Homo sapiens: one gene and its partners. The protein of the gene in region 1 interacts with the protein of each later gene in a pairwise test. Each region holds a gene or a part of one and is shown in the gene's direction. Other genes may lie near its edges.

Region 1 (5,740 bases):
TTAAAAAATTATTACTGTTCTGTTTTTCCCCCATGTTACTACCCATCTTTAGTGAGAGCTGTTCTTATTTCTCAAGCTGTGCAGTTAATTGGTCGTGCTAGCGTGTATGTGCTTACTCTGTGCAGGCTTCAGAATAATTTAATTGTGTATTAAGTTTCAAACACTGACGACCTCTTAAAGAAGAATGTTAAGTTATACTATTTCATATTTCAATTACTTAAATTACATCAGTGATGTAATAAAATGCAATGTTGTCATCGTATTTATTAAATTTAAATTTAATTTTCAGCTAGTCCTTTGTCGAACTTGAAATATTTTCATTTATCATAAACTGGATCAGGCTTTGACACATTTATTTACAGAGGCACCCAAATAGAAAAAGTAGGTCAATTTGTTGCTATGATAGAATAGATTCTGGCAGTGTGCGAGAGTGTGTGTGTATGTGTGTGTGTGCGTCTTGCCTGTCTTGATCAAGTGCACATTTCTCTCTAACTTTGGGGTAAGCTGCTTCTTGGGGACAGAATGGCCCTTAGAGAGGTTTAACATAGTTTTCTCAGCTTAAAAATCCTTCTCTTTTTCAACGGGATTAGAAAATTCTCTTGCAACTTCGGTGTTTTCTGACTGAGTTTTTTCACTCCCCATTTCCTCTGGGTTGTACATGTATAGTGAATTCTTTTCTTATTTCATCTCTGCTTTTAAATACTAGATTGTTTTCTCATCCATGAAAAGAAGTAAAGCATTTCATTGACGCAGATACTGTGAATTTTACCCACAGGAAGAAAATGTAGGGTTAACATATTGCTAGTATTCATACTTTAAAAGTATAAAGAGATGTGAATTGATTAATTGATTTGATTTTTTCATGAAAATGACATTTATCTAAAAAATAAGCATCTGCTGTCTTACTGGAGAGGTGGCTTACAGTTTAACATAACTTAGGTTTACCTTGAAGACATTTTTTTTTCCTTTACTGTTATCTGTATTATATAACAGGGAGAAAACAATACATTCAGAGAGTAGAGGGAAAATAAGATAATTCTATAATGTTTCCAAATCATTGGGCATATCAAATAGTATTTCATCTTCTATTGACAGAATTTTAAAAACAAAATATATATTGCAATTTGCAATAAAACTTACCCTTTATAGATAATTAATAACAAAATGTTCTCAGAGTAGATTTTAATGTTTAGACTATTAGTAAGATTTCAGATGATTGAAACAAAGCATGTTTATTCTTTTCTTTTGTGGAGCTTGGATTGTTAAACATTAGTTCTGGGAGAGACCAGGGAAGATAAAGGTCTATCATAAACATAACTAATGAGATAACTCCTCAAGGATAAATTTGGTCTAGAATTATTGTTATGAGGTTATATTCTTTTATAGAATTTTCTAAATCAAATCTTGTACTTAATTAAAAACAATAGGGTAATCTGACTTAAACTTTAAAAATCTGGGCTTATGAAATATAATTCTTGCTATATAATTCTTGCTTAGAGAAGTAGTGTGATGGACTATACAAAAGCATTAATTAGTGATGGCACCTTCGGAGTATGTATGGAAAAATATGTCAACTGGTAGGTAATAATACCTGCTCTTAAATTTCTCTTTTTTATTTGTGTTTTCAAGGAGAGTCATATCATCTAATGTGTGTAATGAAGTTAATCGTGCTGAATACACTAACATCATAGAATTGGCATGTAGTGTCAATTATTCACCAAAAAAGAAACTTAAGCAATGACTAATATACCACAACATTAGATGTTGATTTGAAAAGATGATGCATAGATGAAGTAATTGTTAAATTAATCATAAGGGAAAATATTGAGGCTTGAAATAAATTTGTTAGGTTAGCATAAATCCTGAGGCTTTTTGAAGGCATCGTAAACTACTTTTGCATTTGCTTTAAGTTCATTGTTGAGGGGCATAAGGAGAGCTCAGAGCCCATCTGTGCCCAACTGCTGTGTGGTCTTGGGAAGGTCAGCCTGTCTTCTAGCTGATTAATCTGCAAAATGAGAGGGTCAGAGAGACACTGTCCCCCGCCTCATGTTGAAAACAGATTACACTCTTGGATTTGTTAAAAAAAAAAAAAAAAGAAGAAGATCATAGGTGACAATGTCCACAGCTATCATATTTCTTTTTCTCTATTTAACATAATTAGAATAGCCAGGAGGTTAAAATTTTAGTAAAGATATGAAAATTAATAAAATGTTTTCTCAATTCATAAATAGTGCCAGATCTGAAACATCTAAGGAGGATGGAGAAAAGTTCTAGATAGTATCTTTGCTGGCTAAAGAAGTTAAGACAGCATCTAAGAGAAGTTAAGGAGCCAGGCGTGACGGCTCACGCCTGTAATCCCAGCACTTTGGGAGGCTGTGGCAGGCGGATCACCTGAGATCGGGAGTTCAAGACCAGCCTGACCAACATGGAGAAACCCCGTCTCTACTAAAAATACAAAATTAGTTGGGCATGGTGGCGCATGCCTGTAATCCCAGCTACTTGGGAGGCTGAGGCAGGAGAATCGCTTGAACCCAGGAGGTGGAAGTTGTGGTGAGCCAAGATCGCGCCATTGCACTCCAGCCTGGGCAACAAGAGCAAAACTCCTTCTCAAAAAGAAAAAAAAAAAAAAAGAAGAAGTAGTTAAGTTAGCATAGTGCCTTACTGCGCCCAAAGTAACTTAGTAAAAGGGTATGTATTACTCAGAAATGAAAGTGACACAAAAGAGAACTGTGTGTAAATGAGACTGCATTGCAAAGATGCAGAACCACCTGTGAAAGTGTAGGAGAGAGTAAAGGAACTGGGCCTGAATGTACGCTCTGCCATTTAGCTATGTGACACTGGGCAAGTCACTTGACTTCTCTGAGCCTTAGTTTTCTTATCTGAAAATTGTCACCAAAAGTGAATGAAAGAAAGCAGGTCAGGCTCCCAGTGCCCATTCTGTGGTAAGTGTTCAATAAATGGCACCAATTATGATTGTTTTTGTTATTATCTCCATGACAAGAAGAAAGCCTGCACCCCAGGCCCATGTTTGTGCAACTCTGCACTCACACCTGGTTCCCCTCTGCTCACCTGTTTGTCTCCCACCCACCCACGACTGAGCGCCTGGTCTCGGGAGTTTGGTTTTTCTCTCCCTCTTTATGTGCCCCTAGTCTCCCCTTGTGCCCAGTACACAGTAGGTGCTCCATATGTGTTGAATAAACAAATTAATGAATAAGAGAATCTCTCTGTTAATAAGTAAAATATCTTCTTTACAATTCACATAACATTAAAAAGAAAGCATCAAAAAAGTTTTCTGTTTACAAAACTCTCTTATATAAGGTATATGGGTGACTGTCAATGAAATGTTGAGCACCTAATATCTTCAGGTTTTTGCTAGAAGACAAGTATATTTTAATTTCCGCCCTGAAGTAATTCGCAGTGTAGTTGGGCACAAAAGACAAACACGTGGAAACACACACAGTGTATATGATTGTGCCTGTCTCCGTATCATCCCATAATGCTGATAAACTCTTTTCAACACTGCAAGATTATTTGATAGATAATATTACAGAAAATATCCTAAGATAGTGTGGTGATTTGCCATTGAGTTGTAGAGACCATGAATGTAATACATACAGATGAGAGCAGAATCACAGATTTATAGTGACATGCCATGAAATTCAAATAGGAAGAAGATGATTAAAAACAAATGAGGTGGCCTGGCGAGGTGGCTCACGCCTGTAATCCCAGCACTTTGGGAGGCCAAGGTAGGCAGATCACCTGAGGTCGGGAGTTCAAGACCAGCCTGAACTCCCCATGGAGAAACCCCATGGAGTTTCCCCATCTCTACTAAACCCCATCTCTACTAACATGGAGAAACCCCATCTCTACTAAAAATACAAAAGTAGCTGGGCTTAGTGGCACATGCCTGTAATCCCAGCTACTTGGGAGGCTGAGGCAGGAGAATTGCTTGGACCCTGTAGGCAGAGGTTGCGGTGAGCCAAGATCGTACCATTGCACTCCAGCCTGGGCAACAAGAGTGAAACTCTGTCTCAAAAACAAAAAAGCAAATGAAGTTTTCTGTAGGTTAATGTACCAACAAAGTTGTAGAGATGATAAAGTAGTCATATAGTACTTAGACACCTAGAAGACATGAGTTAAGGAAATTTTAAGACAAATGGGGCTATTTCAGTTAAATAGAAATAGGACCTATTGTGAAGGCTCCTTCCCAATTGGGCCCCAACCTTGAAAAGGTCCTAGAAGTTTAGGAAGAGTAACTAAGGCAGACAGAATGGCGGGGCATTTCAAAAGCATTACTGTAAATCTAGTAAGTGAGGCAAAATAAAGGAATCTGATTTTTTTTTTTAAGAAGGAACAAATAAGATAACACATGGAAGAGAAAGATTCTCAGGTGGAGAAAATAACCAGAATAATAGTCTGCAAGGGATCATATGATGTTTAAAAACTAAAAGTGGAAAAAAGTAGTGGCCAAGAGTATAGTGGAGATTTGAAAGGTGCCTTGGGAAAGGTCAGTGCAATTGTCTTCTTTAACTGGGATATCTTCCTCTTTACTTCTCCACTCATTTTACTTTAGCAGGAGGACTTTGCTGAATGGCAGAGTGCAGACTTCAACAGAGGAAAGAATCCATTCAATATGTAAAGGAAACTGGGTTTTCATATTAGAGGACAAAACCTAAATGCAAATTAGAGGAAATAGTATTGTTGGCCGGGCGTGGTGGCTCATGCCTGTAATCCCAGCACTTTGGGAGTCCGAGGCAGGCAAATCACCTGAGATCAGGAGTTCAAGACCAGCCTGACCAACATGGTAAAATCCCGTCTCTACTAAAAATACAAAAAAATTAGCTGGGCGTGGTGGCGCGTAACTGTAACCCCAGCTACTCAGGAGGCTGAGGCAGGAGAGTCGCTTGAGCCTGGGAAGCAGAGGCTGCAGTGCACCAAGATTGCACCACTGCACTCTAGCCTGGGCAGCAGAGCGAGACTCTTATCAAAAAAAAAAAAGGAAATAATATTGTTTAAATGATAAATAGGAAGATTCCTTCTCTGCAACATCACTGCTGACTGTGACACACTCCTTGCCTTCATTTCCTATTAAAGTTTCATTACCAAAAAACAAACAGAAACTTGATATTAATAATCACAAATTTCTCTGAGTTACGACTAGCTGTTCCCTTAACTATGTTGGCTCAGTTTAATGGGCAAAAACCTGGCATGAAACATTATTCTTTATGATCCTGAAATTATTACATAATTCCTTTCATTCCCTGGAAAAGACAAAAGAAGCTGGCAGGCTTTTCCAATTGATAAAAGTAAACTTCATTTTATTAGTCATTATGAAACTAGGCGTAAGAAGGAGATAGTGGCATCATGTAAGAACATTACATCTTTTTTTTTTTTTTTTTTTGAGACGAAGTCTCGCTCTTGTCCCCCAGGCTGGAGTGCAATGGCGCGATCTTGGCTCACTGCAACCTCCGCCTCCTGGGTTCCTGGGTTCAAGCGATTCTCCTGCCTCAGCCTCCCGAGTAGCTGGGATTACAGGCGCCTGTCACCACACCCGACTAATTTTTGTATTTTTAGTAGAGACGGGGTTTCACCATGTTAGCCAGGCTGGTCTCGAACTCCTGACCTCAGGTGATCCGCCCACCTCGGCCTCCCAAAGTGCTGGGATTACAGGCATGAGCCACCACACCTGGCTCATTACATCTTTTTAGTAGGGTAGAATAAAGTGCCACTGTGTGCAGAT
Region 2 (3,035 bases), on another chromosome or scaffold:
CCGACCTGGGTTTCTCTGGCTGAGTCCAGGGCTTGGCGCTAGGTTAGAATTCAGGCTGAGCCCCGGGGTGGCCTCCTTTTGTGTCCCGATCCTAGTCTGGCCCGGTTTCCCCTTCCCGGATTCCTGCTCCCCTTCGGGGTTTTGGATCAAGTCCACCCACCACCTCGGCGGCTAAGGCGGTGAAAGAGGAACACCGCGGGTGGAGCGGGGGGGCCCGTCCCCAGTCCCCTGGACCTCAGTTTCCTCATGCCCGCAGATCAAGCGAGAGCTGAGCGAGAACACGCCGCACCTGTCGGACGAGGCGCTGATGGGGCTGTCGGTGCGCGAGCTGAACCGGCATCTGCGCGGGCTCTCCGCCGAGGAGGTGACACGGCTCAAGCAGCGGCGCCGCACACTCAAAAACCGTGGCTACGCCGCCAGCTGCCGCGTGAAGCGCGTGTGCCAGAAGGAGGAGCTGCAGAAGCAGAAGTCGGAGCTGGAGCGCGAGGTGGACAAGCTGGCGCGCGAGAACGCCGCCATGCGCCTGGAGCTCGACGCGCTGCGCGGCAAGTGCGAGGCGCTGCAGGGCTTCGCGCGCTCCGTGGCCGCCGCCCGCGGGCCCGCCACGCTCGTGGCGCCGGCCAGCGTCATCACCATCGTCAAGTCCACCCCGGGCTCGGGGTCTGGCCCCGCCCACGGCCCGGACCCCGCCCACGGCCCGGCCTCCTGCTCCTAGTGCCCGCCCCCGCCATGCCTCAGCCACGCCCCTCCGGCCTCAGCTCCCTCCCCAAAGTGCCTGAGCGCCGCCTCTGTGCCCAGGTCCCATTTCTCTGCAGCACTGGCCCCTTGGTGCACACACATTCCCTTCGTGGGCCCTGTCTTCCTCTTGCAGCCCCCCAAACTGGGACCGAATGACCCTGGGAAGGGGAACTTGGGTAGGTTGGGGATGGGGCAGAGGTCTGGATCTGGGATCGCCCTTGGCTGAAAGTTTAGCCTTTTTAGATTGAGAGATACAGAGCCGGCTTAGAGAACAGCTGTTGGGGGAGAAGAGGGCACCCCTCATCTTGGAAACTGCTCTTATTGTGCCAATATGCCCTCCAAACCCTCCCAGGATTCAAAGCTAGGTTTGGCTGTCTGTGACTTACGGGACCGTCCTGCTGAGAAATTGCACTGAAGAGATGCCCCCACCTCTGGTTGGGCCTGGGGGTGCCTGGCCTTCCGAAACTAAAAGAGTGGGTGGGAAGACTAGTGAAACCCAGTTCACGGATGGGGAAACAGGCCTGAGGTCACATTTCACTTAGTGGTTGTGTTGGGACCAAAACCTGGGTGTCCTCACTGCTGCCCTGAGTCCAGCCATGGTTTTCAGGGGGACAGTGGACAGGGACTCAGAAATGTGGTGGGAGGGCCTCCCTGGCTTGGGAGACCGCTCTCTGCAAGGGAGGGGGAGAGAAGCAGAGGGAGAGAGAAGGTGACACGGATGGAAGAGTGGGAAGGAGCTGGCCTGGCTCAGCCCTAGGCTGTCCCTGCAGCCAGGGTGTCCGGGGGCTGGCCAGTCAGAGAAAGGGGGCCATGGACTGCTGTGGCAAATAGGGAGACAAGGAGACAGACCCTGCAGTCCTACTACAGTCTGGAGTGGGGTCCTAAGAAGAAGGGTCCCACCTCAACCCCTGTCAGTGTCCACTGTGGGGTGGGGGCTGACCCCTGCCTTTGATTGTCATTCTCCTGGGAAGCCCAGTCTCAGTCCCTCCCCCAACACTGTCCACACTGCCCCTCCCCACTGTTTATTTATTGCACGGATCTAAGTTATTCTCCCCAGCCAGAGCCCGAGCTCCTGCTCCCTGGGAAAAGTGGCGTATGGCCCTGAGCTGGGCTTTATATTTTATATCTGCAAATAAATCACATTTTATCTTATATTTAGGGAAAGCCGGAGAGCAACAACAAAAAATGTTTAAGCCGGGCGCGGTGGCTCACATCTGTAATCCCAGCACTTTGGGAGTCCAAGGAGGGGGATCGCTTGAGTCCAGGAGTTTGAGACCAGCCTGGACAACATGGTGAAACCCCATCTCTACAAAAAATACAAAAATTAGCCATGCATGGTGGCTCATGCCTGTAGTCCCAGCTACTTGGGAGGCTGAGGCAGGAGGATCACTTAAGCCCAGAAGGCAGAGGTTGTAGTGAGCTGAGATCGCACCACTGCACTCCAGCCTGGGCAACATAGCAAAATCCTGTCTCAAAAAAAAAGTTAAAAAATATTGCCCGGCTCCTAGAATTTATTTATTTCCTGACTTACAGCAAGCGAGTTATCGTCTTCTGTATTTTGTAGACTTTCTAAATAAAGTCAAATTCTTTCTTTTTCCACAGAGAATAAATGTGTATCCTGGACTATGTTTTTTGGCGAGGGGTGTCTAAAATGGGGTTCTGCTTTCAACCCCTTAGGGCTTCTGGTGGCGGGGAGGGCTAGTGCACATCACCAGCTATTGCACAGGGTATGAGGTGGAGGGGAGATGGCGACAGAGACCAGTGATGCTGAAACTTCGATGCTTCCTCTTGGTTGCTTAGAGCACAGGAGCTCCTGGGAAGACAAAGCCATGGGCACAATGAAATTTAGGACTGGATTCTGGCGGAGCATGGTGGCTCACACCTGTAATCCCAGCACTTTGGGAGGCTGAAGCAAGAGGATCATCTGAGACTAGGAGTCCAAGAGCAACCCGGGCAACATAGTGACACCCCATCTCTACAAAAAATAAAAAATAATTAGCCACATGTGGTGGTACACATGCCTATTGTTCCAGCTACTGAAGAGGCTGAGGTGGGAGGATCACTTGAGGCCAGGAGTTTGAGACCAGGCTGGGCAACATAGCAAGACCCCCATCTCTACAAGAAATTTAAAAGTAAGAAAACAGGCCGGGCGCAGTGGCTCACACCTGTAATCCCAGCACTTTGGGAGGCTGAGGCGGGTGGATCATTTGAGGTCAGGAGTTCAAGACCAGCCTGACCAACATGGTGAAACCCCGTCTCTACTAAAAATACAAAAAACAACAACAACAAAAAAAAAA
Region 3 (4,028 bases), on another chromosome or scaffold:
AGTGAACAGTTTATGCTTGTGTGTACATGCACATGTATGGAGATTGCTACAGGACAAAATCCTGGAAGTGGAGTGCTAGATGAATAGTATATCCATTTAAATAGTTGATAGATATTGCCAAATTGCCTTCTAAAATTTTTGTACCAACTCATACCCAAAAAAGCATATGAGTGCCCTTGAAGGAAAAGGGTTCTTAAAATGTTGAGCAGGGAGAGTAAAGAAAGTTGAAATGTAATTTAAGGGTGAGGTGAGCCACCTGCTTTCATCCAGCCTCTGATCTCTGCTTCACTGAGCACGCCTCTGCTGGGCAAAGAGTAGGAGCCTGTTGGGACAGATCGGTGGGTCCTTGCTCCAAGAAGGAAGTGTGGCTCATGGGCCACACTCTCAGACATGCAGAAACTGTAAAGGAAGGAGACACAAGCTAAGAAACCCGGGCTGGCACCTCTGCACAATCCTGGAGCCTGCCCGTGCCCTGGCTGGCACTGGGCTTTGCTGAAATCTAATATCTTGTTTCTTTTTCCCTTCTGTAACTAATGAGCAGGATGACAAGTACTGGGCAAGGCGCAGAAAGAACAACATGGCAGCCAAGCGCTCCCGCGACGCCCGGAGGCTGAAAGAGAACCAGATCGCCATCCGGGCCTCGTTCCTGGAGAAGGAGAACTCGGCCCTCCGCCAGGAGGTGGCTGACTTGAGGAAGGAGCTGGGCAAATGCAAGAACATACTTGCCAAGTATGAGGCCAGGCACGGGCCCCTGTAGGATGGCATTTTTGCAGGCTGGCTTTGGAATAGATGGACAGTTTGTTTCCTGTCTGATAGCACCACACGCAAACCAACCTTTCTGACATCAGCACTTTACCAGAGGCATAAACACAACTGACTCCCATTTTGGTGTGCATCTGTGTGTGTGTGCGTGTATATGTGCTTGTGCTCATGTGTGTGGTCAGCGGTATGTGCGTGTGCGTGTTCCTTTGCTCTTGCCATTTTAAGGTAGCCCTCTCATCGTCTTTTAGTTCCAACAAAGAAAGGTGCCATGTCTTTACTAGACTGAGGAGCCCTCTCGCGGGTCTCCCATCCCCTCCCTCCTTCACTCCTGCCTCCTCAGCTTTGCTTCATGTTCGAGCTTACCTACTCTTCCAGGACTCTCTGCTTGGATTCACTAAAAAGGGCCCTGGTAAAATAGTGGATCTCAGTTTTTAAGAGTACAAGCTCTTGTTTCTGTTTAGTCCGTAAGTTACCATGCTAATGAGGTGCACACAATAACTTAGCACTACTCCGCAGCTCTAGTCCTTTATAAGTTGCTTTCCTCTTACTTTCAGTTTTGGTGATAATCGTCTTCAAATTAAAGTGCTGTTTAGATTTATTAGATCCCATATTTACTTACTGCTATCTACTAAGTTTCCTTTTAATTCTACCAACCCCAGATAAGTAAGAGTACTATTAATAGAACACAGAGTGTGTTTTTGCACTGTCTGTACCTAAAGCAATAATCCTATTGTACGCTAGAGCATGCTGCCTGAGTATTACTAGTGGACGTAGGATATTTTCCCTACCTAAGAATTTCACTGTCTTTTAAAAAACAAAAAGTAAAGTAATGCATTTGAGCATGGCCAGACTATTCCCTAGGACAAGGAAGCAGAGGGAAATGGGAGGTCTAAGGATGAGGGGTTAATTTATCAGTACATGAGCCAAAAACTGCGTCTTGGATTAGCCTTTGACATTGATGTGTTCGGTTTTGTTGTTCCCCTTCCCTCACACCCTGCCTCGCCCCCACTTTTCTAGTTAACTTTTTCCATATCCCTCTTGACATTCAAAACAGTTACTTAAGATTCAGTTTTCCCACTTTTTGGTAATATATATATTTTTGTGAATTATACTTTGTTGTTTTTAAAAAGAAAATCAGTTGATTAAGTTAATAAGTTGATGTTTTCTAAGGCCCTTTTTCCTAGTGGTGTCATTTTTGAATGCCTCATAAATTAATGATTCTGAAGCTTATGTTTCTTATTCTCTGTTTGCTTTTGAACGTATGTGCTCTTATAAAGTGGACTTCTGAAAAATGAATGTAAAAGACACTGGTGTATCTCAGAAGGGGATGGTGTTGTCACAAACTGTGGTTAATCCAATCAATTTAAATGTTTACTATAGACCAAAAGGAGAGATTATTAAATCGTTTAATGTTTATACAGAGTAATTATAGGAAGTTCTTTTTTGTACAGTATTTTTCAGATATAAATACTGACAATGTATTTTGGAAGACATATATTATATATAGAAAAGAGGAGAGGAAAACTATTCCATGTTTTAAAATTATATAGCAAAGATATATATTCACCAATGTTGTACAGAGAAGAAGTGCTTGGGGGTTTTTGAAGTCTTTAATATTTTAAGCCCTATCACTGACACATCAGCATGTTTTCTGCTTTAAATTAAAATTTTATGACAGTATCGAGGCTTGTGATGACGAATCCTGCTCTAAAATACACAAGGAGCTTTCTTGTTTCTTATTAGGCCTCAGAAAGAAGTCAGTTAACGTCACCCAAAAGCACAAAATGGATTTTAGTCAAATATTTATTGGATGATACAGTGTTTTTTAGGAAAAGCATCTGCCACAAAAATGTTCACTTCGAAATTCTGAGTTCCTGGAATGGCACGTTGCTGCCAGTGCCCCAGACAGTTCTTTTCTACCCTGCGGGCCCGCACGTTTTATGAGGTTGATATCGGTGCTATGTGTTTGGTTTATAATTTGATAGATGTTTGACTTTAAAGATGATTGTTCTTTTGTTTCATTAAGTTGTAAAATGTCAAGAAATTCTGCTGTTACGACAAAGAAACATTTTACGCTAGATTAAAATATCCTTTCATCAATGGGATTTTCTAGTTTCCTGCCTTCAGAGTATCTAATCCTTTAATGATCTGGTGGTCTCCTCGTCAATCCATCAGCAATGCTTCTCTCATAGTGTCATAGACTTGGGAAACCCAACCAGTAGGATATTTCTACAAGGTGTTCATTTTGTCACAAGCTGTAGATAACAGCAAGAGATGGGGGTGTATTGGAATTGCAATACATTGTTCAGGTGAATAATAAAATCAAAAACTTTTGCAATCTTAAGCAGAGATAAATAAAAGATAGCAATATGAGACACAGGTGGACGTAGAGTTGGCCTTTTTACAGGCAAAGAGGCGAATTGTAGAATTGTTAGATGGCAATAGTCATTAAAAACATAGAAAAATGATGTCTTTAAGTGGAGAATTGTGGAAGGATTGTAACATGGACCATCCAAATTTATGGCCGTATCAAATGGTAGCTGAAAAAACTATATTTGAGCACTGGTCTCTCTTGGAATTAGATGTTTATATCAAATGAGCATCTCAAATGTTTTCTGCAGAAAAAAATAAAAAGATTCTAATAAAATGTATTCTCTTGTGTGCCAGGAGAGGTTTCAGAAACCTACCTCGTCTTACAAATTTAAACACTTTGGAGTCTGTACAGGTGCCTTATATGTAGGTCATTGTCACGATACACACACACGAACACTCCCTCTGGACTGGCTGCCTCTCCATCCAGGGCAGTTAACTAGCAAACAAGGCAGATCTGCTTCATGGAGCGGGAGGCCATGGCTTGACTCTGAGTGATTTGGGTCAACCGGAGTCAGACGCATGTCTGCACGCTGCAGCTATTATGAGAGTCCCTTTGTCATTTTTCACCTTTTCATCCTAAGCATCTTTCAGAGATTAATTATTTGGCCATTAACAATGAATCCAAATCATATCATACTGACATCATCTAGACATGATTTGGAAGGAACAGCTTAGGACCTCCTGATGAGGTCACATTGTTGTTTCTTTTAACTAGACTTGGCAAAGAAAGGCAAAAATTGACCAGCCTATCTTTCTGCTGGTGCTGCCTTAAGGAGGTAGTTTGTTGAGGGGAGGGCTGTAGATCATTACTTCTTTCTCTTCAGGAAGTGGCCACTTTGAACCATTCAAATACCACATTAGGCAAGACTGTGATAGGCCTTTTGTCTTCAAAT

Evidence for each region. The genes of interacting proteins can lie anywhere in the genome.
Region 2: the proteins of NFIL3 (region 1) and MAFF come close enough for resonance energy transfer, tested with the Homo sapiens proteins (one large-scale study listed by BioGRID and IntAct).
Region 3: the proteins of NFIL3 (region 1) and HLF come close enough for resonance energy transfer, tested with the Homo sapiens proteins (one large-scale study listed by IntAct).

The regions. Positions count from the first base shown.
Region 1 is NC_000009.12:91,412,514-91,418,253, reverse strand, and holds part of NFIL3 (nuclear factor interleukin-3-regulated protein), read left to right. Parts: exon of another isoform or gene 1-2,688; intron 2,689-5,740.
Region 2 is NC_000022.11:38,214,164-38,217,198, forward strand, and holds the end of MAFF (transcription factor MafF), read left to right. Parts: intron 1-256; coding exon 257-715; 3' UTR 716-2,344; downstream 2,345-3,035. UniProt on the Homo sapiens protein: Since they lack a putative transactivation domain, the small Mafs behave as transcriptional repressors when they dimerize among themselves.
Region 3 is NC_000017.11:55,320,123-55,324,150, forward strand, and holds part of HLF (hepatic leukemia factor), read left to right. Parts: intron 1-538; coding exon of another isoform or gene 539-541; coding exon 542-757; 3' UTR 758-4,028.